Homo sapiens: one gene and its partners. The protein of the gene in region 3 purifies or fractionates together with the protein of the main gene of each other region. This does not show direct contact. Each region holds a gene or a part of one and is shown on either strand. Other genes may lie near its edges.

Region 1 (3,500 bases), on a different chromosome or scaffold from region 3:
GTAGGAACTGAGAAAATCCAAAGAGGTAAAAGATTGCTTTTCAGTGCCCAGAGAAAGAAGAGCCAAACCACCAGAATCATGAACAAACTGATTAGAGGAATGCTTCCTCTAGCATTCTACTCTCTGGACTTTAGTCAAGGAACTGTAAATACCTTTCTCTGGAACTCAAACAGGAACTAATTTACAAAGGGTAGAATCAGTACTTTAGTTTTTTTGAGGAACTGGGAGTAAAAGAGATAATCTTTGATGCTAGGCCAAGGGATTAGCTCCGAACCACAAGGAGCAGAAGAACTATGATACCCTACCCTAGTTTCAACCCAAGAGAAGAAGAAAACAGAGGGCAAGTGGCAGCATCTCCCCTTAGACAATGTTATGTAGTAGTAGCGCTGGAATAAGCCTGATGCAGCATCCTTGCACCCAGATAACCATCTGGTGTATTATCTGTGATCTATTTCCATGGGTCATACTGACCTACAGAGCCATTCTTATTTATGGCTCTGTAAGATTATACAGTGCTATAGATAGGGAATAGTTTGATAGATGGGATAGAAGATAGAAAGAAAATTGAAGCTGGATGAAAAGATAAGAAGAGTGTTGGAAAAGAGTGGGTGGGAAATAAATGACACAGCGAGTGGGAAGGAGAGAGGGTGTGTGTCAAAATTCAATGTTCTATATTTAATTGCAGAAAGAATACCAATTTTAAAGAAATCACTCTCAAACTGGTTCTAAAGCATCCATGAAATTGACTACTCCCTCATTGGCCCAGGGCCAGATGAAATTTGGACTATGCAAAACAGAAAATAAAATGACTCCAGACCCTGGGCTATCTCTACTCTCCAGGCTATATTCTCAATAAAGACTGCCAGGTCAGGTCTCTTCTGTCCTCTCCCCTCAGGGTGGCACACCAAAAGACTAGCTGTTTTCCACTTAAAACACTCAGCATTAACTCAAATACTTTTTGCCCTCTAACTTGTCCTAGTGAAATGCAAAACAGGTGAGTTCTGAAAGGGTGAGGAAGCAGAATAGGAAACCCATCCATTTAGTAGCAGAGCTGGAAACAGAATCCAAGTCTCTTTATTTAATCAACAAATATGTACTGAGTGTCTACTGGGAGTAACACTACAGATGTGCCTATTACATTTAATTCAAATGCGAGAAACACAGTCTATACTAATGATTTTTCCCTACCTCTTCCAAATAATACAGACAATGCAGCTAGAGCATAATTCTCTAGAAGATGTTCAGAATCTGGTCTGATAACCACAACCCACTGATTGCACCAACACGATGGAATGCAAGGTTGATTTTATTTTCTGCTACATTATCATTTAGATGAGTTAGAGACAGTTTACAGACAACACTCAGCTTACTGACCAGGAAGTGGAAGATGGCACAGTAAGCAGGTAGACTCAGTAAGATATTTATCTGAATAAAGTTTTGGGTCTGAGTATTTCTACAGAATTATCTGGCCTCATATGTATTAAATGCATGAGAGATAACTCAGTATAATTTTTCCTGTCATTCTGAGAGAATTACAAAGCATGGACAAAAACAACAAAACCTCTACAGAAGAATCTCAGGACCTAAAACTAAAGCAAATGAAAGGAAGAGGACTTTGAAAAGAGGAAGCCAACAGAAAAACAATCATAATAAGGGTACAAAGTACCTTGGAAAAATTGTAAAACACCTTCCTTACAAATGTGAGGTAGGTTCATTTCACCTCTCTCCGTTTGTACTAAGCATAGATGAACAAAGTCCCACAAAAAGAACAGATGATGCGTTTATGTTGCTTAAGGAAAATCATTCCAAATGCATTTTCTTTAATTTTTAAATTTTATTCATATACTTGAGACAGAGTCTTGCTCTGTCGCCAAGGCTGGAGTGCACTGGTGCAACCCGACTCACTGCAACCTCCGCCTCCTGGGTTCAAGCGATTCTCCTGCCTCAGCCTCTCGAGTAGCTGGGACTACAGGCCCGCGCCACCATGCCCAGCTAATTTTTGTATTTTTAGTAGAGACGGGGTTTCACCATATTGGCCAGGATAGTTTCAATTTCTTGACTTCATGATCCGCCCGCCTCAGCCTCCCAAAGTGCTGGAATTACAGGCATGAGCCACTGCGACAGGCCCCCAATGCATTTTCAAATCTACATGCTGTCAAAAGTTTCACGGTAATTTGTGACATGAAGGAAGATTACTTTTATTTGCCTATTTCTGCCTGTATTATAAACATAATATAGAATATCTGTCTATAGAATGTCCACTGTTAAAAAATGATTAAATCTTTGTAACATAATTACTTTAGTGAAACCACAGAGCAGTGCAGAATTTTCACTACAAAATCTGAGGCTTGAAGCTTCATGTTAAACTAAATGACTAACCTTTGTTAAATAAATAACTGGGAAAAAAATTAGCATTTAGCAAAAGCATTTGAACTATCCTCTCGTGAAAACATGAAAATATTTAGGTTTGTTAAGAGGACTTAAGTTCATATTCATAAACCACTCATAATAATGCATGATATACAATAAAACTGCAAATAAATGTTTGCTAAATAAGTAAAAATGAACTTAGAGGTACTATATGAAATAACATCTTTAAGTCCTTTGGCAAAAATATACAGGCTGTCTTTCTTCTTTTCATAACTTCCCAATCCCTTCCTTAAATGTTAAAGAAATGTCCCTGATTGTCATGCACTTCCTGTGCCTTATCAGAGTACACTTGCTAGGCATTTGTTCACCAAATCTTATCCTTTGAGTTCAGGTGGTGCCACAAACCTGTATTTCTGAAAATGCAGTAGTTGGACATAGATTATCAGCCTGGCAGCTAAGTACCTCATGTTTGTACCAAGCCAAACATTTTTGTAAGATGTAGAATATATACATACTCAACTAGATTTCATTTTATGCTCTTAAACTTTCAGTTTTATCTGCTTCACACATCTTCTGACTGCTGATACCAAAAGAGAGATGCTTGGTAATCATACATAGCATATAGGACTAGGTACCATGCTCTAACAGTGAAGAATTTAAAGACAGGAAACATCTTTTATTCCCCAAATTTCTGCTTCTCTATCCTTAAACTGCAGGTAACCAACCATCTTTAGTGCACTATGAATTAACATATGAGAAATAAAAAATTAATAAAGCAATCTAATCTTAAAAAACCACACAATCTATTTCAGAAAATATCCTTTCCCCCATCAATCCACATTTACTTCAAAACGTGTCCAAAAGTCATCTTTTTCTCAGAAACCTCTTAATCATATTCACCCACTCTTTATCTTTCCTTGTAATCTTTAAACACTTCTTCCCACTCTGTAACAAATAAACAGATCTAACACACAGAAAACCCAAGTAAGGCTTGTTTCTCAGATCTAAATAACACATAATTTTAAATATTTTTACTACATAATTTAAAGCATTCTACCAAAAACTCATTTTGACATTGGTAAAAAACAATCAATTCTGAAGTTAAGTATGATTATAATTGTTTTCCTGTT
Region 2 (3,500 bases), on a different chromosome or scaffold from region 3:
CTCTACTGGAATAAGTGGGGTTGTATGATTTTATAATCCATAAAAGTTGTGATAGCAGGTATATTGCAGTTAGGAACTTAGAGACTTTTAAATTTCTCCCTCTCCTTTTCATGTGGTTCTCTCTACACTTTTATTCTTCTCTTACTTTGAAGTTGTATTTTTCTTTCCCTCTTTCTCCATCCACTGGTGGCATATCCTTTGCAAGTTTACATGTTACAAGTCCAGCTACACTTAGTGATTAACTGACCATCTGCGAAAGCAAAGTTAGATTCCAAGAGAGAGTGTCTGACCCTTTTTGGAGTTGGCTGTCTGAGGTAGATACCTGTGCTGTTCTAATGATCTGCGGTGAAAGGAATCAAAGCATTCAAACACAACAGTTGGAGGCTCTACCTTAGTCCACATTGGTTCATCTCTTAGCATACTTTACCTTTCTTTAGTCAGACAAAAAATTTGGAGATACTATGTAAATAGATTTTCAAGTGATGTTGTTAGTTGATAAATTAAGTTATATAAGCTAGGGATATTAGACTGCCTGTTGTGCTGTTAATGAGCCATATGACAGGTAAACAGAGGGTAAAGTTGTTGTAGACCGTAACATCCTATTCTGTCTCTGCAGCTCTTGAGATCCTGTGGTTCAAGATTGTAGTCACCCTGTAGTGCCTTTTTTGATCATATTTAGGTTTGTCTTAGCCCCAGAGTTTCAGTAAAATTTGTCCTGGGAACTTTCTGAACTGTGGCGTTGAAGTCTTAATGTGAGAGTTGCCCTGGTATATTTTTTTTTCAGAGAAATACCTTACTTAACATTGTTGTTCCACCAGTATTTTGGTCTGCCTGTGTTTTTTAGCATTTGGGGCCTGAGGGGTTTTAAAACAGCCCTGGTATGTGGAGAATGCTAATCTAGAAGCAGTTTAAAGGACAGGATCCCACAGGAGAGGGTGGTAATAGCTGTGCTCCTTTAGGTCTGTTATTTGTGTTGTAGCAGGCAGAAGCCTATATCCCCTATTTGAGTTTACTCAAGACTGAGAAGAAATACAATTCCTCTCAAAGAGATTTCATCCAGTTCTTAGCCTGTTTGAGAGCCAGTTTTGCTTAGCGCTGAAGAACGTGGGTGTAGGGCTAGATTAGCTCTGCCACTTAGTATCTTTGAAACATCTGTTCCTCAGTTTCCTCATCTGTAAAGTGGGGATAATAATAGCCCCCAGTTCTTATATTTGCTTTGAGGATTAAATAAGTTAATACATGTAAGTGAGATAAAACACTGCTTGTGACATTAGTTAAGCACTCAATGATTACAAAGAGATAATAAAAAAATTAAAATCCTTCGCTGTTGCGTCAAACTATGAGCAAATGAGTTCATTTTTGTCTCATGTATAGCATCACATTTATATTCTCTCTGTGTATATTAATATATACACACATATAATATATAATACATAATACAATATGTAATATATTAATAGTGTGTATTAATATAGAATATAATTATATATTCTATACAATATTTTTCCTGTACTTTTCCCTTAATATTATATCATGAATATGTTGTTGTTATTAGTTTTTGGAAATATAACCTTCCATGTCTGTGCAGTATTCTATTATATGGTTGTACTATGTTTATTTAACTTAACCCTTGTTTTCCAAAATTTATTTCAAAAAGTTGCTATTCAAAACAGTGTTAAAAATGAGTATTCTCCATCACAAACATCTAACATCTCTGGTTACTTTTTTTTCCTGGGGATAGTTTTCTAGAACTGAAATGATTAATAAGCTATCTTCTCAAAGGGATTTTGGTAGCTTGTTTTGGTTACTTCCATCCCATTCCTATTTAAATACGCAGAATCAAGGCTAAGCTACTGGCTGCACTTTTCTAAATACTTTTATTACCATAAGAATGTTGCATTTAGAGATTAATGAGAATTTGAGGCAGCAGAGTATAGCAGCAAGAAAATGGAATTAGAAATCAGACAGATGTCTTTAAATCTCATTTTTATCCCTTTTTGGAATGTTATTTTGGGTAACCTGTTTCAACTTTTGGAACCTCATTTCCTAATCTGTAACATAGAAATTATTTAAAAACCAAAATTTCAAGGTTGTTGGATGAGTAAATGAAATAAAGTCTGTACAATGCCCAGCCTGTCACAAGAAAAGCACTAACTGGCTATTAGTCTTATCCCAGGTTCTTCAGCATTTTACTGTGTGGCACACAGCAACATAGAAGAAGGTATCTGTACTTTGGAAAAATTTATAGTCAATTTGGGGAGCCACAGAAACATAGAACCAAGGTGACAGTGATAAAGCTGCATGTTATCCCATGCTGATTAATTCAATGTGGAGAGAGTGTGGAATAAAACAGTCGTTAGAATAGTGTGGATTTGTAAATGCACACTCAGTTTCTACAGATTCCACCCCATAGGCCCACTTCTGCCAAGACACAATCAGTCATGTGGGATTTGACAGGTAGGAGGTAGTCTGCTATAATAACCAAGTTTTAGAACAAAAGAACATTCTTGTATCTGCTCAATAAAGTCAACGGGCTGATATTTAAGACAGCTGTTTTGTGTTGGGCATGATAAAACAGATACTGCTGTAGTTGCCAATACAGGCTGAGGTAAGGCAAGTAGTTATTGCCTGTAATAAAATAGGATGTATTTAAAAGGTGCCTGACCCAGGGACCAATGATGTTCACTCCCTGATACACAATACCTTAATATTGGCAAACTTAATGACAACATTCAGTGTTAGTGCCTCTCCAGCCAGGACCATTAGCTACCAGACATTCTTGTTCAAATTGTGAGGGTTTTTGTCAGGTTTATTCTGTGAAGAATAATGTTGCAGACCTTCTGAGGGAATCATCAGCTGATTTTCTGAAACTCTGAAGAAACAAAATATCACTGATAGTCCCCAGCAAATATTTCTATTTATTAGACAGTAAACGAATTCAAATATAAGCTATTTTAATGAAGCCAAGAAACATGCAACTTTTGGATATTTGCCATCTATTTTCTTTAAATTAATCTCAAAATCTAACTCTTTGTCAGACAATGTATAAAGTGGTTAATGTGGGCTAATTCATTCAATCCTTGCAATTCTGAAAAGAGGTGATGTTATGTCCTGTTTTACAAGTGAAGAAATTGAGGTTTAGAGAGAGTATAAGTAATTTGGTTTAAGTCACGTATCTAGTAAGTGGCAAAGTTGAGTTCCTATCCATATATGTCTAATTCCTAAGCATAAGCTTATGACCATTAGCTATATTATGTTGTTCTTCCATAAATTCTTTATTGTCGGCTTGAAGAGTGGAGCTCTTTTCTGTCAATACCAGTGTGTTAGTAACTAAAAGAAATTATAAAGCTTAGGAGATGCAATTATAATAGATCATATCAACACTACTCTACCACAAAGGATATATTTCTCTGAGGATGCAAAACACAGAATGCTTTCCTGTTTTTCTGTTCCCTACTGGTGAGAGCTTTGAGTAGAGCAATTCATAGGAGTGGCATAAA
Region 3 (2,930 bases):
TGGATTAGCCCCTTGTTTGCTGCTCCTTTCGGTACAGACGCCTGGGAAGGCTTTTCCCACACAAGATCACTCATCTTTTGACAGGTTTAAGCATTCTGTCAACTGTCCATCATGGGTTCTCAAGGAACTTAAAACAAGTATCTTCGTGCCAATAAACCTGAATAATACACAGAGTCCCTTCCTATCCATGGGAAGGAAGCGGAGTTGGCTCATCCAAGTAACCCTATTAGAGGTAAGTTGTTAAAAAAAATTGTCATCATTCCTAATTCTCCCAAATTATTTTGGTCTCTTTGTACTACTTATCTTCATCACATCACATTACATTTAGATGTTGTGAACAATTTGGCAAGAAGCTAAAATTACTGACTAATGTTTCTATCAATTTGTATGATCAATGGCTAGATAATCAGAGTTGGCTCTACAGCTGACATTCAAAAGCACGACTACCAATTTCTGCCCACACAGGCTATCCTTGACATTATTACTGTCTCTCTTATGTAAAACCTGTATAGAAAGAAATTTGTTATATCAAATCCAACTTTAATTCTAGATGAATATTCAGCTCTGGGCCAGGGAGAAGGCATCACTGTACAAACCCCAGAGTCTGCTAACATCCCCAGGCACAGAGCCTATCATTCGTTAAACAAACCATCTCTGGGGAAAATGACAACAGCCTGAATAAGAATATGGTGACCATCTTAAGGACAGCTCCAATTAATGGCAACAGTAGGGACGGTGCTGGCTGCAGAGGGTGGAAGTGCAGGAAGTAGCAATATTTCCTCTCAACAAATATAAATCTCTTGCTTAAAGCAGCATGCACAGAATGACTGAAAACGCTGGCAATATTTTCCCTATATTAAGCTATAAGCCAAGGCAAATTTAAGGAGTCATGAATTATCTTTGGGATTGCACAACAGTACATGTTCAAAACTAACATTTCAAAAGGGTATTTTCCTCATCTGAAATTCCCTCATCTTAATTCTATAGTAGAACAACCCATTGTACATAAATATTTAATCTTTTATACATTTTCGGTTTTAAGATATGATTAAAGAAACAACTTGTTATTGTCGGAAGAGCCAGGGAAGAACAGTAATCCATTAATAGTGGAAACCACATATACCCTGTTTCTTCTCTCTTAGTGAGATACTGTTATTTAGGGAGGGGTAATTGAGAATTAATGTGCAAGTTAAGTGGGAAGATGTCACTCAACTCCTCAAAGTTCATACCAGAATAATGTGAATGCCAGAAGGCTGATTTTCACAATTTAGTGCTATAACTGACAGCATTTGAAATACATGAAGAAAATAATCGAGCCCGTGATGTTACTCAGCCTTCCTACCAGAAAAGAGAGTAAAGCATCCCCACAGGAGTGTCTGTTCTCCTCTTCCAGCCACAGTCACAAGTGTGCTAGCACCTTACCTGGTGAAACATGGGAAGAGGAAAAACACATGAATGCCTGTTGGAGTTATTTATAAGAAACCCAAGCAGAATTTATAAAATATAAATAGAAGAACTCATCACCTAAACTCATGGCCACACTACATTACACTAGCAATAATTATCTTTATAACTGTTGTCAACTGTCTTTTCAAGATGAGACAACTTAGCATCAATCCATCTGGTCATCTTCTCTGTTTGAGTAGTTCATGTCTAATAAGAAGGAGAAATTCTCATAACTGTACAACAAGGTATATGCTGAAAACTGATTACCCTAATAATATTGGCTTCAATATTCTAGACTATAAACGTTTTTCTTCCATCATAATATTTTCCTAATACTTTGTATTTCCATGGCTCTTGAGTTGTTTTTTAGTGCTTTCCACATCCATCTTCCCTCACGTGACCCTCATGACGGCTCTGTGAGGTAGCCAGGGCAGGCATCAGTACCCCACTTTGCAGATGACCCTGAGACTTGGGAAAGTGACTCAGCTAGGGGTCACATGGCTATTAAGAATCGAAAGAGGGACTAGAAACTATCCTAATCCAACACTCTTTCCTCCATACTAATGGATGGGAATTGCTTCTATCAATTTGTGCATTAGCAATCCACATCCTTCTCAAGTTCAGGCAACTGAGTCAATTAAAAAGGTGACTGGAAAGGAATGGCTCTACTTTTACTGCCTCAGTATAAAAGTCTCTTAAGTTGTGGCGTCAGAAAAATTAACTTCTTCCCACTCCAGTCTCTAAACCTGAGCATGGCCCTATAATGCCTTTAAGAAACTGGGGATAGAAATGGACACTGAAGTGTAAAATGGAAGGGAGACGGAAGGAGGAGCCATCATCCCTCAGAGAGCCACATAGAAGGCACTTCAGACAATGTCCTCGGCAGGGTGGTGGAATGCACGTGTGCCCAGGGTGGAGAACTGGTGCCAGTTCCGCAGGAAGCCCCTATTGTACTGGCCTGTGTCCACGATGAGCCCGCAGAGGAGCCGGCGCCCAGTCTTCTGTCGGAGGGCCTGCTGGACTTCCCGCTCAGTCACATTGTAGCTGATGTTGATCAGCTGGATCAGGAAGATGTAGGCCATGCCTGCTGTGATGATCACAGAGTACCACACGCAGGTGAAGGACAGAGCCGAGCTAGGAGAGGGAAAAAGGCTGTCAGGGCTGCCGTTTTTGTCAAATTCAGAAAACTGTCATCATTCTCACGTTTTACACATTTTTTTACTTATTACTAAAGACTTTGGCATCTTCCCCAACCCTCCGAACTGGAAGATACTCAGAATGCCAATAACCTGCTTAAGTAGGAGAATGTGTGTGTTTATTCTATAATTACTGGTGCCTATTTTCTAGTATATTACACTAGAATAGCAGGGACTGTTTTTTGCATTTTGTACCCTCCACACACCCAGCACGCTGCCTGACATAACAGCGTTCAACACCTGTTTGTTAAATAAACAAGTAATTCGTAAATTACATCTAACTCATGA
Region 4 (3,500 bases), on a different chromosome or scaffold from region 3:
AGCCTCATCTTTAAGGCACAGCGTTAAAATTTTAGCTGTGTGGCAACCACCTTGAACTTTAATTTTAAAAAGAAAAAAGGCCTAACAATAGCAATCCCTGATAGGTGGATTTTCAAATTGTCAGCATTCATCATTGTCACTCAAGGTCACCCTTTTATTAGCTTCAGAGATTTGAATGAGAAAGTATGCTGGGATGGGATAAGAGATAAAAAAAAAAAAGAGATCCCAGAGATTTGAGTTCTGAGAGCAAATACTATTTAGAGACTACACTACAAAGATGGAACACTGTGGCTCTGTCAGTGAACAGTAAGGTGAAAAGAACAAATCTGACCAATAACTCAATGAGAGCAAAATCAAGAAGCTCCACGTATCTTTCAAGGGCACCTCCAGGGGAACCTCCTAGAAGCAGCCAGGCCCGCCCACCCTGCTCCTGAAGAGCAAGGCTGTGGAAGGTGAGAGCACACACAGAAGCTAATGACGTCCATCCCTCCAGCCCAGCCTTCACAAACCAATGGCCTCGTCCCACCATCCTTCCCAGGACCACACCAACAGTAAGCATAGTCCGCCGGGTGTGGTGGCTCACACCTGTAATCCCAGCACTTTGGGAGGCTGAGGCAGGCAGATCACTTGAGCCCAGGAATTTGAGACCACCCTGGGCAACATGGTGAAACCCCATCTCCACAAAAAACAGCCAGTGTGGTGGTGCACACCTGTAGTCCCAGCTACTTGGGAGGCTGAGGTAGGAGGATTGCTTGAGCCCAGGAGGCAGAGGTTGCAGTGAACTGAGATCACACCACTCCAGCCTGGTGTCACAGTGAGACTTTGTCTCAAAAAAGAAAAACCCAAAAGAACACATTAAGCATACTCTAATGAAGCCTCATGACAAAGTAAAAGGTTCTGTGAGTTGTCTGAAATACAAGGTGACATCCTCTCAATGTTTCTCATTATAATCATGATAATGGCTTAGACATTCATAGGAATCAGAATCTTCACCTAGTTTTCATAAATGGTTCCCTAAAACCCAGCAGATGAGATGCCTCCATTCTGCTGTTTCTCAGGTCTGTTTCTGAGAAATACACAGAATTCACGCCTACCTTGTCCACGTTGGCCCGGGTCTTCGCTGACGTCTCCACGTACTGCACGCCCCACTCTTCGGCTTTACTCCTGGCCTCCTCCACAGGCACCTGCCTCCGCTCCTCTAGGTCAGACTTGTTTCCCACGACGAGCAGTGGAATTTTATCTTCTTCAGCCTTCACACGGAGAATCTGTTCCCTAAGGTGTTACACCAAAAATACAGCAGCTAAAAAAACTAAAGAACGAACCCTGGTTTTGTGAACCCATCTAAAATAAAAGGCTTTCCTAAGGCAGAAGGAAAAAAAAAAATCACTAGATTTAGGGCATGTTCTGAGAAAGCACTCCCTAGAGGCAGTCATGAGCAAGACAAGTGTTTTCCAAGTCTGCTTCTCAGTTTGCCCACATCAGAATCCCCTGGGATGCTCATCACAAATGCAGATTTCTGGGCTCAGTCTTACAGAAGTGTCTGGATAGGAGCCCAGGATTTTACGTCACAACAGGGTCCCCAACTTATGCACACACAAAAAAAAAAACAAAAAGAAGAAAAATGGTCAATCTCTGCAATAAAAACAAGCTAAGGGAACTATCTCCATAAAATGCTTAATTCCCCTGAAAATATTTGTTTGTGACATAAAAGCTATGAAATCCAGTGTTTTCTATATGGAAGGTGGCAGCCTATTAGTGGATCACAAAACCAATCTAGTGGGTCGCAACCAGCAGTTTCTCCCCCCTGCAGTGAAATAGATTATAGAACAGAACTGACCAGATCAGAAATATCCAAGGGAATCTCAAGTAGGAAAGGTGAATATTGTATTGTTTTGAAACTTCAGTTTTGATTAGATCTGCATGTGTACACGACAAGTATGTCATCCCATCCCCAGTTTCCATGCAGACACAGTAATGTTATAGGCCACAGAATCGAGACAGATATGTTAGGCAGTAATCACATTCCAATACGTACCATTTTTCTACTACAAAGTGAAAAAAATGAAAGGAAATACGACAAGCCCTATGGAAAAGTACTTCAAAAGTGTCTTCTACAAAAATACCATTACTCGTAGCATATTAAATTTTACGTCTACTAAAAATTATCAGCTATCTGAAAGTACTAATCAAAACTAAATATTTAAAAAAATTAAATACCCCATTTCCATTATTTTGGTCCCATGAGAATATTTCTACTTTTATATGCCAATACATTCTAAAAAGAGTCCCCTTCAAAAATGTATTTTGTAGAGATCTGTATTGATTTTTATATGGTATAGGGTAACATTTCACAATAATAAAAATATTTTCTAGGCGTGGTGGCTCACATCTGTAATGCCAGCACTCTGGGAGCCTGAGGAGGGAGGAACACTTGAGCCCAGGAGTTCAAGACCAGCCTGGGCAACATAGGGAGACCTTGTATCTACAAAAAAAAAAACAAAAAAAAAAACTAAAATTTTCATGTAGTCAATTTAAGTGCCAGACATCAAATATTTTAAGACAAACTAAAAAAGATGAAAAGATGCTTGAAATTGGCTTTGTGTAGCCTTGTTATAGCCTACATTTGAACTGGGGTCAAAGAACATGATACATTTGAAGTCATGTGATCATTATAAACTATGAACAATAAAAACTGATAGCTTTCTGGCTCATTAGTCTTGCAGGGGCACACAAAATTACCTCATTGATAAACATATCGATCCAAAAATGGGAGTACCAAGTTCTGGTCTCTTATGACAGAACTTATCTTAGTTCATAAAATATTTTCCAGAAAAAGTTTCAAGGAAGACAGCATATTCACATGTCATTTTATATTGGGGCCTTTCTATTTGGAAGATAGTACACAAATGCTGTTTTAAAACTGCTAACAGACATGAAGTAAAGTGACTTGAGTTTAGCCACAGGGCTCAGATAATTGACCTGCATTCTTCTGTTCCCAACAACATGAGAAACCTACGCAGAGGTCAACTTCCCCTTCTTTCTGGTTTTAGGTATTCATCTGTCCTTTTTCTTCTAAGGATCTCTCTTTCCACCTAACAACCAAAACCCTTTTCCACATTGAGGGGAGCCCTGCTCCAACTCTGTGAGAACGCCCGAGTGCTATCTGTGCATGTGTGGTGACTGAGGAGAGGACAAGGAGCACTTGAAATACCTGTATTTCTCCATATCCTCTGCAGAGAACTCTCCTGCCCACTTCCCTTCTAAGTAAGTCACAGAACAACAGGAAATCAAAAGGCTCGGGACAGGGAAGAAAAGAAGAGAGTGTGTGCATCTGTCCTGTTTTACCCTCTATGAGGCATTAAAAACAGGACTACGCAGATGCAAACAATTATAAATACATGGGCTACATTCAAACAGAGCAGCCCTTAGGAAGGTCTGAAATGTCTAAAAATTAACAGAACTTCTCATAATGAGTCATAGTCACTTAACTAGTCACTGCA
Region 5 (3,500 bases), on a different chromosome or scaffold from region 3:
ATTCTAGTCTCATTTAAATTATTGTCCAAAGATGATCTAAATCAAAATTCAGAAATCTCATTTTGTGGAAATTTTTAAATCAGAAGATGTCACATAAAAACTGGAATTTCTGGCTTCTCTGGGAAATCCGAATCCTAAGCCTCTCCGAGGCTGCCTCCCCATGCTGGCAGCCAGCGTAGCAGAGCCCCAGCTCTTGCTGGAGGCGCCTCCTGGGCCAAAGCCCCACAGTCCTCACTACTCCTTGTCCCCTGGAACTGAGGCTGCCTGTCAGCTGCCATTTATAACTGAGAAGACACTAAGCTATTTTTTGTATTGGAGGGTTTGTTGTTGTTGTTGTTTTTGGTTAAATCTTCTCCTCAACCATGTTTTTATCCAGCCCCTGACCACTTCACTCATTAGCATCACCTGCGCACCTCTTCAAGCTGCTGGGCCACGTGTAGATTGTGATTAAACTGTCCAAACTCCTCTCTGCTTTTATAATTTGAGTTTACAGTAAATGTTGTTAGTAATAATTTTAAATCCAATTCAGATACTAAGAAATATTTGAAAACCATTGTCTATTCCATGCAAAATTTTATGCATAGCACAGTACACCAGAACTTTCATATTTTAACGGTTTTCATTTTGAAATGTCTCCCCAGGAGACACTGTACACGCTGTTCCTGCCGTTTCTTCCAAAATCAGCTTGTGAGTCACATGAGAAAATTGGTTTCTTAGCTTTAAGGTCACACCTGGCTTTCAAACCAAAACAATGTTATCTAACCTAAAACCCAACCTTGATCACCAGATCCGGTGTCTCATGACTTCCAGCTTTTTGCAAAATCAAAGTCATTCTCAGAAGGAGGCCAGGCCTAAGGTTTACTCGGAGCTGGCTCTGTGCTGGATCCCTCTGGAGACATTTGCACATATGCTATCTCGTTTGCTCCTTGCAACAACCTTAGTTCATTCTTTATCACATTCTGCATGACCAGGTTGGTCTGCAGTTTGCTTTTAAATTGGAAGCATTTGAGCTAGTGACAGTTGTGTTATCTTTCAGTAACAGTTGTTAATAATAACTACTGTTTATTGAGTGCCTGGTACTTATGTGCTGGATTTTGTGCTTAACATGTTAACATGTGCAACCTCTGTAATCCTCACAACCGTCTGTAGAGATCGATGCTATTAGCCTTATTCATCTGGTTTGCAGATGAGACACGTAACACATAAATCGCACAGCTAGGATCTGTCTGTCTCAAGACTCTGTGCTCCTAATTAGGAGGACATACTGCTTCTCTCATTATTTCTTACTCTGTTGCCTTCTACTAATGGACCAAACAGTCACGTTCAGTTGGAATGTGCACCCCAAGTGGAGGATTGTTCACTGCCAATCATCAGACAGCTCCTACTAAAGTGAAACTACATTTAATGCTCATATTGACTGGAAGCTTGTGAGAGATCCTTCAGCCAGAATGCACTCAAAAAGCCAGAATTTGCTCAACTGCCGTGAATATATACCCATACATGTGTTAAATTCTGAAAAAGCTGCCCCGAGAAGGAGGGATGCATTTTCTCCTGCTGATGTTTGTTTGATATAGTGAGTTCCAACAATATAGCAAATGGACCCCCATAATCAGTGATAACTCCTCTTAACAGTTTATCATTTATTCCTTCAGATGCTTTTCTGAATATTCTTACCCATCTTTTAAAAATTAACAGCATGGGGTGAGTCATACCTAATGTCTGTGTTATCTTTCTTTAGCAACATTGAACTACTGCTACCCTTTATCAAGCACTTCATAAAAGCTGCACCCTGCGCTGTGCTCTTGGCACACGGAATCTTTTCTCATGGTCACACTGATGAGAAAACTAGGGCTTGGAGGGTTGCTCCACAGCTGGTTTGTAGCAGACCCAGCTCTGACCTCAGCTTAAAGCCCTTCTTGCTAACCCTGCAGACCTAGCCAACTTCTGAGGAAAACAATTCTGTAAGAAGAGCCAGGTGGATCTATCTCAAGTAAACAGTGTGTGTTTGTGTGTGTGTATTTGCAACATTTATTTATTTTTCTTATAACAGCAAAGTACATAAAATTTATATCAACCCTTTGGAAAGTAGACAGCTCTGTGAATAAGGATACAATATTTGACCTTAACACTATGATTCAGATACCTCCGTTATAATAAGCCTTTCGCTGTATTTTCTTTTGTTTGTATACATATATCTCTAAATTTAGATATGTGTTGATGTTGCTGTAATTTTTTAAAAATTTTTCCTAACTCAAAGTGGCTGATTCACAGTGTTCTGGTTAATTTTTTTTTTCTGGAGTTTCTGTTTCTTTGTTTTTTGGTTTTTGTTTTGTTTTTTCATTTAATACCAAGAAAACTCAGTCTGTGAAGTGGAGCCGATGCTTCCAGCATAGCCAGTGCTCCTGGGTCTCCCGTGGGATCCGTTTGTGCAGAGTCCTCACGGCGTTTCTCCCACAGTGCTGCTTTCAAAATGGAAGAAGATGACGCGCCCATCAAGCGCTGCCCCAAGTGCAAAGTCTACATCGAGCGAGACGAAGGCTGCGCGCAGATGATGTGCAAGAACTGCAAGCACGCCTTCTGCTGGTACTGCCTGGAGTCTCTGGACGTGAGTACGGCCTTCAGCTTCACCTTGCGGCATTTAGCTTTGAGGTTTAGATTTGGAATGAGAAAAATAGACCAGCTGTTTCCTAAAGAGCTTGGTGCCTACTCCTGTGTAACAGTGAAGCAACACCGTTTGGTGTTTCTCCTGGGTTTGTGAAAACATTAACTCATGAGCGCCATGGGGACAGAAGCCTTTGTGACTCGTATAGTCCTGGGGTCTAAACACTTCATGCAGGTTCAGGATCCAGCCTGGGATTTAAAGGGGTTTTAGCATCTTAGGTTTTGTCTAAGCGGGGACTGTCATTGTCAGTTTGGGCTGCTGTGACATAATATCATAGATGAGGCAGGTTAAATGACAGACATTTATTCCTCATGGTTCTGGGGGCTGGAAATCCAAAATCAGGGTACACCAGATTTGGCTCCGGGGTTCCTGATCAGGACTCCTTCCTGGTGTTCAGGATAGTGAGGACAGACAGAAGTGGGGGCTGGGGGGCTGTTGGGCTTGGGGCCAGTCTTAAGACTTCATTGACACTCACATCATCTACAGGGCGGGAAAACGTGCAAGCCCTTTGCTCTCTGGCAGAATGGAAGTTCTGGTCTCATACGGCAGCCTTCTCCTAAGTATGCTCTGCTTCAGTGTTTCTCAAACACACCCTACCGTGTGTGCCTGCAAGAGCCATGTCCCTGACGGGAGGGCACAATCTCCCAGGCCCACACGTCTCTGGAGCTTTGAGGCCTGATGCACAGGTTGCTGCTATTTAGCTTCTCATTCTCCTTCCTTGCCCATATTAGGGCGTGGGCATCTTGCCAAAATGATGAAGCTATGATTTTAGTTTTAGAATAATTTATTGATGCATACTTTTTTAAGAACTATAATTAGGCCAGCCTCGGTGGCTCAC
Region 6 (3,500 bases), on a different chromosome or scaffold from region 3:
GGGAAAACTGATACTCTAGGCACCGGACATAAACAACTGTCACTTGATCCCAATGTTTAGTTAACATAAAACCGTCATCCTTAACCAGTCTGAAAAAAACATGGCCTCCCAGACCTTGAAGCAGGGTCCATCTTCCAAACCAAATCTTCACACCTGGGAGGGAGGAAAAGGCTTGAGGCCACTCATCCAGCCCTTTAACTCTACACGGTAGGACATGCACAGGTTCTGTGACTTCACACAACCAGGTAGACCACCTCAGGCAGGACAAAAGTCACCAAAATGCCAGGACAAGGATTATATTAGAAAACATGCCACGTCATGAGATCACAGAAAGCGACATATGGCCCAGAGTAAAACACAGGTTAGCAGCTCCATAGAAACACAGATGTAGGAATTCATTTTTTTATTTCTACAACAAAGGCAAAAACAACTTGATATTTTTAGCCTATTTTATATTTACGTGATTAACCCATTGGGAAAACGGCAAAGGTCCTTAATGAACATGTATCCTGTTTTTAAACTAAAGCCATGACTATAACCTTCTGATACATTTCACATATGAAGTACCTTTTGGTAGGACTGTGCAATAAAGGTGAGGGTAACATCCTCTAAAAGGACATCAGAGGTCGGGCATGGTTGCTCACACCTGTAATTCCAGTAGTTTGGGAGGCCGAGGCGAGTGGATCATCTGAAGTCAGGAGTTCGAGACCAGCCTGACCAACATGGTGAAATGCCATCTCTACTAAAAATACAAAATTAGCCGGGCATGGTGGTGCATGCCTGTAATCCCAGCTACTCGGGAGGCTGAGGCAGGAGAATTGCTTGATCCCGGGAAGCGGAGGTTGCAGTGAGGAGAGATCATGCCACTGCACTCCAACCTGGGAAACACCAATGAAATTCTGTCTCAAAAAAACAAAAACAAAAACACGACATTAGAAAATGTCCCATCTGAAACAATGAGGCATCAAGAACTAACTGGCATAGAACAAAGAGGAAATAAATAGGCCGAGCGTGCTGGCTTACGCCTGTAATCCCAGCACTTTGGGAGGCTAAGCAGGTGGATCACCTGAGGTCAGGAGTTTGAGACCAGCTTGACCAACATGGTGAAACCCATCTCTACTAAAAATACAAAAAAATTAGCCAGGTGTGGTGGCACATGCCTCTAGTCCCAGCTTCTCCGGAGGCTGAGGAGGAGAATCGCTTGAACTTGCGGGCGGAGATCGCGCCACCGCACTCTACCCTGGGCGACATAGTGAGACTCCGTCTCAAAATAAAAGAAAAAAGAGCAAATAACTAAAAGAGTATAATTGGATTGTTTGTAACACAAAGAATAAGTGCTTGAGGGAATGGATACCCCCATTCTCCATGATGTGATTATACACTGCACGACTATATCAAAATATCTAATGCACCCCATAAATATATACACCTACGTATCCAGAAAAATTTTTAAAAAATTTTAAAAAGGAGCAAAGCTTTAGCAGCCTCAACAACACACCTGATGTTTTTCCACTGTGGTTTCTTACATTAAGGAGCAAAGCTGTTTTTTCCTTGCTTGTGATAACATCTACAGTGCAAAATGTGCTGTTCTAAGAAAAGCGGTTGGCCAAAGCACACAAAGGCATGAAGTTCATGTGTCATCAGAGAGAGGAGGCAAAGGTGGTACTGGAAGAGCGGATGGATTCACCTAAGGCATTCCACCATGTGTTACATTCAGATGGGATCCCCAAGACTTCCAGAGCAGAGCAGATGGCTGGGTGCCCCAGATTCGGGGCTGGGGGGGGTGACTGTGGAGGAACTGTGGGAGACAGAGCCATGAACATCTCTGGGCTGAGGAGATTGTTCTCTCTCCTGATGATGATGGTGGTCACACCAATCTATGCATGTGTCAAGACTCATAATGCACCCAAAGAGACAAACTTACCATATGGTAATTTAAATAATAAAATTATATAGATACAGCCCTAAAATGTAAGAGGGAAAAGATAAGGAAAAAAACAAAGCAAACTACTAGACACCATCGTGACTGATGGTGATACCTTTCCAGACCCAATTCCCAACTTCAGAAAACAGGAAACTATAAGCATGTTAGGCTAGCCGGGCGCGATGGCTCATGCCCATAAGCCCAGCACTTTGGGAGGCCGAGGCGGGAGGGTCGCCTGAGGTCAGAAGTTCGAGCCCAGCCTGGCCAACATGGTGAAACCCCACCTCTACTAAAAATACAAAAATCAGCCGGGTGTGGTGGAGCATGCCTGTAATCCCAGCTACTCAGGAGGCCGAGGCAGGAGAATCGCTTGAACCCGGGAGGCAGAGTGAGCCGAGATCGCACCACTGCACTCCAGCCTGGGCTGTGAGAGAGACTTCGTCTCAGAAAAAACAAACAAACAAACAAAAAAGGCATGTTAGGCTCCAAGCATTATAATAATTCTATGTCGGTCGACTGAGTAAAGTGGCTCACACCTGTAATCTCAACACTTGGGGAGGTCAAGGAGGAAGGATCACTGGAGCCCAGGAGTTTGAGAGCAGCCTGGGCAACACAGTGAGAGCCTGTGTCTACTAAAAATAAAAATAAAAAAATTGCCAGGTATGGTAGTGCGCATTTGGTACTCCCAGCTACTTAGGAGGCTGAGGCAGGAGAATTGCTTAAGCCCAGAAGGTTGAGGCTGCAGCTAGCTATAATAATTGCACTGTCTCAAAATAAACAAATAAATAAAAACTAAATGAGAAATATAATAACTCTATCTCCTTTAATACAAGGAGCCTGGGAAATCTCTCTCTCCCTCTACCCGACCCCTATATATATAATTACATATATATATATATACTCCTACCCACCTCCTCTCTCAATGAGAAAATTAATGTTAGAGAAGTTCACTGATTTGCCCAAAGCTCCAGTCAGTGCACGGCAAGCTAGCTGCAAACCAGGTTTCCCTCATAGCTGTCCCCAGCGCCCAAGTTCAGCGGGAGCCCAGATTCCCCATGACCAGGCAGGGCTTGGGGCACCTCTGGGGCTCACTTGGACGTGGGGGCCAAGGTCCCGCAGCAGGACCACACTCTGGGAGCCCTTTTCCTACTGACACTTGGAAGAGGGCCTCCACGAGGAAAATGCAGGTCCACACCCAGCTGGCTCAACCTGTTTGCTAATTTAACAGTTGCAGGAAGGGAAATGTCTCCAGACATTGGCAAATGCTCCCTTCAAAAGTGGGGGACAAAACTGTCCCAAATGAGAACCATTAGTTGGCTGCAACATTCCAGAGCTCAACGTTGAAAATACTGTTCCAATAAGCAAGCATCTTTTCTACCTTCATTTCTAAAGCTTCCCTTTCTCCTGAACCCGCCGCCTATCATGCCCCATCTCAAATCTCTCTGATCCCATCGGACAAGAACAAACCTAGACAAGAAAAGGAAGCAGTACCCGACTTCCTCTGAAAACTCAACATATTCTCTCTTCCATCTTAACTTTAAATTTGTTCCAATTCCATTTGTAACGGTTTCCAATT
Region 7 (3,321 bases), on a different chromosome or scaffold from region 3:
TATATATATATTTTTTTTTTTTTTTTTTTTTTTTTTTTTGAGACTGGGTCTGGCTATCTTGCCTAGGCTGGAGTGCAGTGGCAATCATGGCTCACTGCAGCCTCGATCTCCCAGGCTTAAGTGATCCTCCCAGCTCAGCCTCCCAAGTAGCTGGGACTACAGGGATGTGTCACCATGCCCAACTAATTTTTGTACTTTTTGGTAGAGACAGGGTTTCACCATGTTGCCTAGGCTGGTCTCAGAATTCCTGGACTCAAGCTGTCTGCCTCTCCTAGCTTCCCAAAGTGCTGGGATTATAGGTGTGAGCCACCCTCCCCAGCCCGTCTTAACCTCTACTACCTTATTTGGCAGGAGCCAGTGGTCCCCCCTTTCCTCCACAATAACTTATTTTTGTTTGCACTTAATGAGTTGTCCTATAGTAGGTCTAATAAAATGTGTGATATAATTGGCAGTGCTGTTCACTTTAAGAGCAGCTTTTGATTAAATTGGGCTCCTTCCCCATATTTAGACTTCAGTGATCATAATGCTGAGCTTTGCATACCATTAAGAGTTAGTGGGTTTGAGTAAAGGTGTTTTAATAATATTTTAAATAAGTACCAGTAAGTACTAATAATATTTTTTTTGTGTGTTAGAGGTTACAATCAAAAGTTTTAAAATTAGTTGATATATCCTATGGTGGTGAAAATGGATTCAACCAAGCTATTGAGTTATCTACTGAAGTCCTCTCCAACGTGAAATTCATTCAAGAGAAGAAATTAATAGGTATCGGTGAAATGCAACTACTTATTCTGTGAAATGTTTTCGTGTGTGTGTGTGTGTGTGTGTGTGTGTGTATGTGTGTGTGTGTATGTACGTGATTGTATGTATGAGACAAGGTACCAAAAATGTAAAAAGGAATATTTAGTATTTTTATTAACTCTTTTGCCTCAGTAAAAGCATTATTTTTTATCTTCTTTAGTCATTAGGTCGAATAGGTGTGTTTGTATCTACTAGGGAAACTTTAATATATATCCTGTTGACTGATCCCTAATCGTAGGACGATACTTTGATGAAATCAGCCAGGACACGGGCAAGTACTGTTTTGGCGTTGAAGATACACTAAAGGCTTTGGAAATGGGAGCTGTAGAAATTCTAATAGTCTATGAAAATCTGGATATAATGAGATATGTTCTTCATTGCCAAGGCACAGAAGGTATGAGAATTAGAAAATAAGGTTGCTATTTGTTACTGAGCCAGGAAGCCTGGGGTGGAGATTTGGGAGGGATGGCTGATTTCAGGAGCAATCAGAAGGTAGATCTACCCATTGTTCCCCAGTCCTTCAGTCTGTAGCACATTCCTGCATAGATTTTTCTGCTTGAACTGTTTAACGTCTGCTTAAGATTGTTACATCTGCTGAGGACCAGGACTATATCTTGAACATCTCTGATGTTCCTTATGGTTGAAGCATTGTACCTAGTAGACACTCAGTGTATGCTAACATGTTTATGGAAAAAATGTTGAGAGATTGAGTCCCTGAGCCCTTTTCTCATCTAACCTCATCTTATGGAGCTTACACAGATTAGTATATGAGAGCCAGGTTAACACATTTTTTCCTCCTAATACTACAGAGGAGAAAATTCTCTATCTAACTCCAGAGCAAGAAAAGGATAAATCTCATTTCACAGACAAAGAGGTATGTGATTATTTTCTTGGTTTGATGATACGTGCAAGCGTAAATCCGTGTGTTAGAGTACTGGCTGTGTAGAGGGTGAGCTTTGGGAAACCAAACCTTATACTAATTGGGGGTGCTGTGGGAGGTGGTCATCTATCTGCCACATACGAATCTGATTTCAGGGAAGGAGCTGCAGCTTTTTTTTTTTTTTTTTTTTTTTTTTTTTTTGAGACAAGGTCTTGCTCTGTTGCCCAAGCTGGAGTGCAGTGGCATGATCTCGGCTCGCTGCAACCTCCACCTCCTGGGCTCAAGTGATCCTCTTGCCTCAGCCTCTCTGGTAGCTGGGACTACAGGCATACACCACCACGCCCAACTAATTTTTGAATTTTTTGTAGAGAGGCGTTTTCACCATGTTGCCCTGGGCTGGTCTCAAACTCCTGAGCTCAAGCAATCCACTTACCTCGGCCTCCCAAGTGGTGGGATTACAGGTGTGAGCCACCATGACCGGTCTTTTTTTTTTTTTCTTTGAGATAGGGTCCTGGTCTGTCACCCAGGCTGGATTCAGTGGCACAATCATAGCTCACTATAACCTCGAACCCCTGGGCTCAGGCAATCCTTCTGCCTCAGTCTACTGAGTAGCCAGGAGTACAGGCACAAGCCCTCATTCCCTTTTTTTTTTTTTTTTTTTTTTGAGGTGGAGTTTGCTCTTGTCACCCAGGCTGGAGTGCAGTGGTGTGATCTCGGCTCACTGCAACCTCCACCTCCCGAGTTCAAGCAATTCTCCTGCCTCAGCCTCCCGAGTAGATGGGACTACAGGCGCCCGCCACCACGCCTGACTAATTTTTGTATTTTTAGTAGAGACTGGGTTTCATCATGTTGGCCAGGCTGGTCTCGAACTCCTGACCTCAGGTGATCCACCTGCCTTAGCCTCCCAAAATGCTGGGATTACAGGCGTGAGCCACCATGCCAGGCAGCCTAATTTTTTTTATAGAAATGGGGTCTTGCTGTGTTCACCAGGCTGGTCTTGAACTCCTGGGCCCAAGTGATCCTCCTACATTGGTTTTCCAGAGTGGTGAGATTACAGACGTGACCCACCATGCCTGGCCTGGTTTTTGTTTGTTTGTTTGTTTTTGTCTTTGTTTTTAAGTAGTTAAGCAATCAGGAAAACATTTCATTATCCTTGAAATTTAATAGGGAGGAAAATGTAATTTACATAATGCCTCTCCTGCACTGTGAAACCTGTGCTGCTTTCTTCACTTGATCAGCTCTTCCACTGCAGTGGCTTCTCTGGTTTGCTCTAAGTGCATCACAACAGTTGAAAGTATGACCCTCCCGTATGAGATAGGTTTAAATGATAGCTTCCTCAAATTCTGGTTTGGAGAGCTTTGTTCTCTACGAGGCCACTCCCAAAAGCAGTCCTGGAATGTCTCTTCTGAGCCATTGAATGGGTGCTGCTTAGAGACACTACAACAGCCTGACTTCTAGAGTCAACAGTAGGAATCATAAGCTGAATACCCACTGAGTTTTTGTGTTGGTATTTCATAGCTGAGGGTAGAGCCTGAGGAGAAGTGTTGTTTGAAATAATCCGAATTTCTCTGCTGATATCCATTAGGTTATCAAAACCAGAGATGACTTACAGAGCTTTACACACAGACATGCCTATAAATGGG

What was found.
Region 1: the proteins of ZDHHC23 (region 3) and UBTD2 purify together in Homo sapiens (affinity purification with mass spectrometry; one large-scale study listed by BioGRID and IntAct). This does not show direct contact.
Region 2: the proteins of ZDHHC23 (region 3) and CPNE8 purify together in Homo sapiens (affinity purification with mass spectrometry; one large-scale study listed by BioGRID and IntAct). This does not show direct contact.
Region 4: the proteins of ZDHHC23 (region 3) and RALB purify together in Homo sapiens (affinity purification with mass spectrometry; one large-scale study listed by BioGRID and IntAct). This does not show direct contact.
Region 5: the proteins of ZDHHC23 (region 3) and RNF144A purify together in Homo sapiens (affinity purification with western blotting; one study listed by BioGRID). This does not show direct contact.
Region 6: the proteins of ZDHHC23 (region 3) and TBL1X purify together in Homo sapiens (affinity purification with mass spectrometry, with the first as the bait; one large-scale study listed by BioGRID). This does not show direct contact.
Region 7: the proteins of ZDHHC23 (region 3) and ETF1 purify together in Homo sapiens (affinity purification with mass spectrometry, with the first as the bait; one large-scale study listed by BioGRID). This does not show direct contact.

What each region holds. Positions count from the first base shown.
Region 1 is NC_000005.10:172,235,265-172,238,764, forward strand, and holds part of UBTD2 (ubiquitin domain-containing protein 2), read right to left. Parts: intron 1-3,500.
Region 2 is NC_000012.12:38,895,592-38,899,091, reverse strand, and holds part of CPNE8 (copine-8), read left to right. Parts: intron 1-3,500. UniProt on the Homo sapiens protein: Probable calcium-dependent phospholipid-binding protein that may play a role in calcium-mediated intracellular processes.
Region 3 is NC_000003.12:113,958,013-113,960,942, reverse strand, and holds part of ZDHHC23 (palmitoyltransferase ZDHHC23), read right to left. Parts: intron 2,581-2,930; coding exon 2,313-2,580; 3' UTR 1,423-2,312; coding exon of another isoform or gene 1,400-1,422; 3' UTR 224-1,399; coding exon of another isoform or gene 210-223; 3' UTR 1-209. UniProt on the Homo sapiens protein: Palmitoyltransferase that could catalyze the addition of palmitate onto various protein substrates and be involved in a variety of cellular processes.
Region 4 is NC_000002.12:120,287,352-120,290,851, reverse strand, and holds part of RALB (ras-related protein Ral-B), read right to left. Parts: intron 1,273-3,500; coding exon 1,095-1,272; intron 1-1,094. UniProt on the Homo sapiens protein: Multifunctional GTPase involved in a variety of cellular processes including gene expression, cell migration, cell proliferation, oncogenic transformation and membrane trafficking.
Region 5 is NC_000002.12:7,021,912-7,025,411, forward strand, and holds part of RNF144A (E3 ubiquitin-protein ligase RNF144A), read left to right. Parts: intron 1-2,457; coding exon 2,458-2,605; intron 2,606-3,500. UniProt on the Homo sapiens protein: E3 ubiquitin-protein ligase which accepts ubiquitin from E2 ubiquitin-conjugating enzymes UBE2L3 and UBE2L6 in the form of a thioester and then directly transfers the ubiquitin to targeted substrates.
Region 6 is NC_000023.11:9,468,058-9,471,557, reverse strand, and holds part of TBL1X (F-box-like/WD repeat-containing protein TBL1X), read right to left. Parts: intron 1-3,500. UniProt on the Homo sapiens protein: F-box-like protein involved in the recruitment of the ubiquitin/19S proteasome complex to nuclear receptor-regulated transcription units. Plays an essential role in transcription activation mediated by nuclear receptors.
Region 7 is NC_000005.10:138,508,916-138,512,236, reverse strand, and holds part of ETF1 (eukaryotic peptide chain release factor subunit 1), read left to right. Parts: intron 1-632; coding exon 633-762; intron 763-1,036; coding exon 1,037-1,192; intron 1,193-1,607; coding exon 1,608-1,672; intron 1,673-3,321. UniProt on the Homo sapiens protein: Component of the eRF1-eRF3-GTP ternary complex, a ternary complex that mediates translation termination in response to the termination codons. The eRF1-eRF3-GTP complex binds to a stop codon in the ribosomal A-site.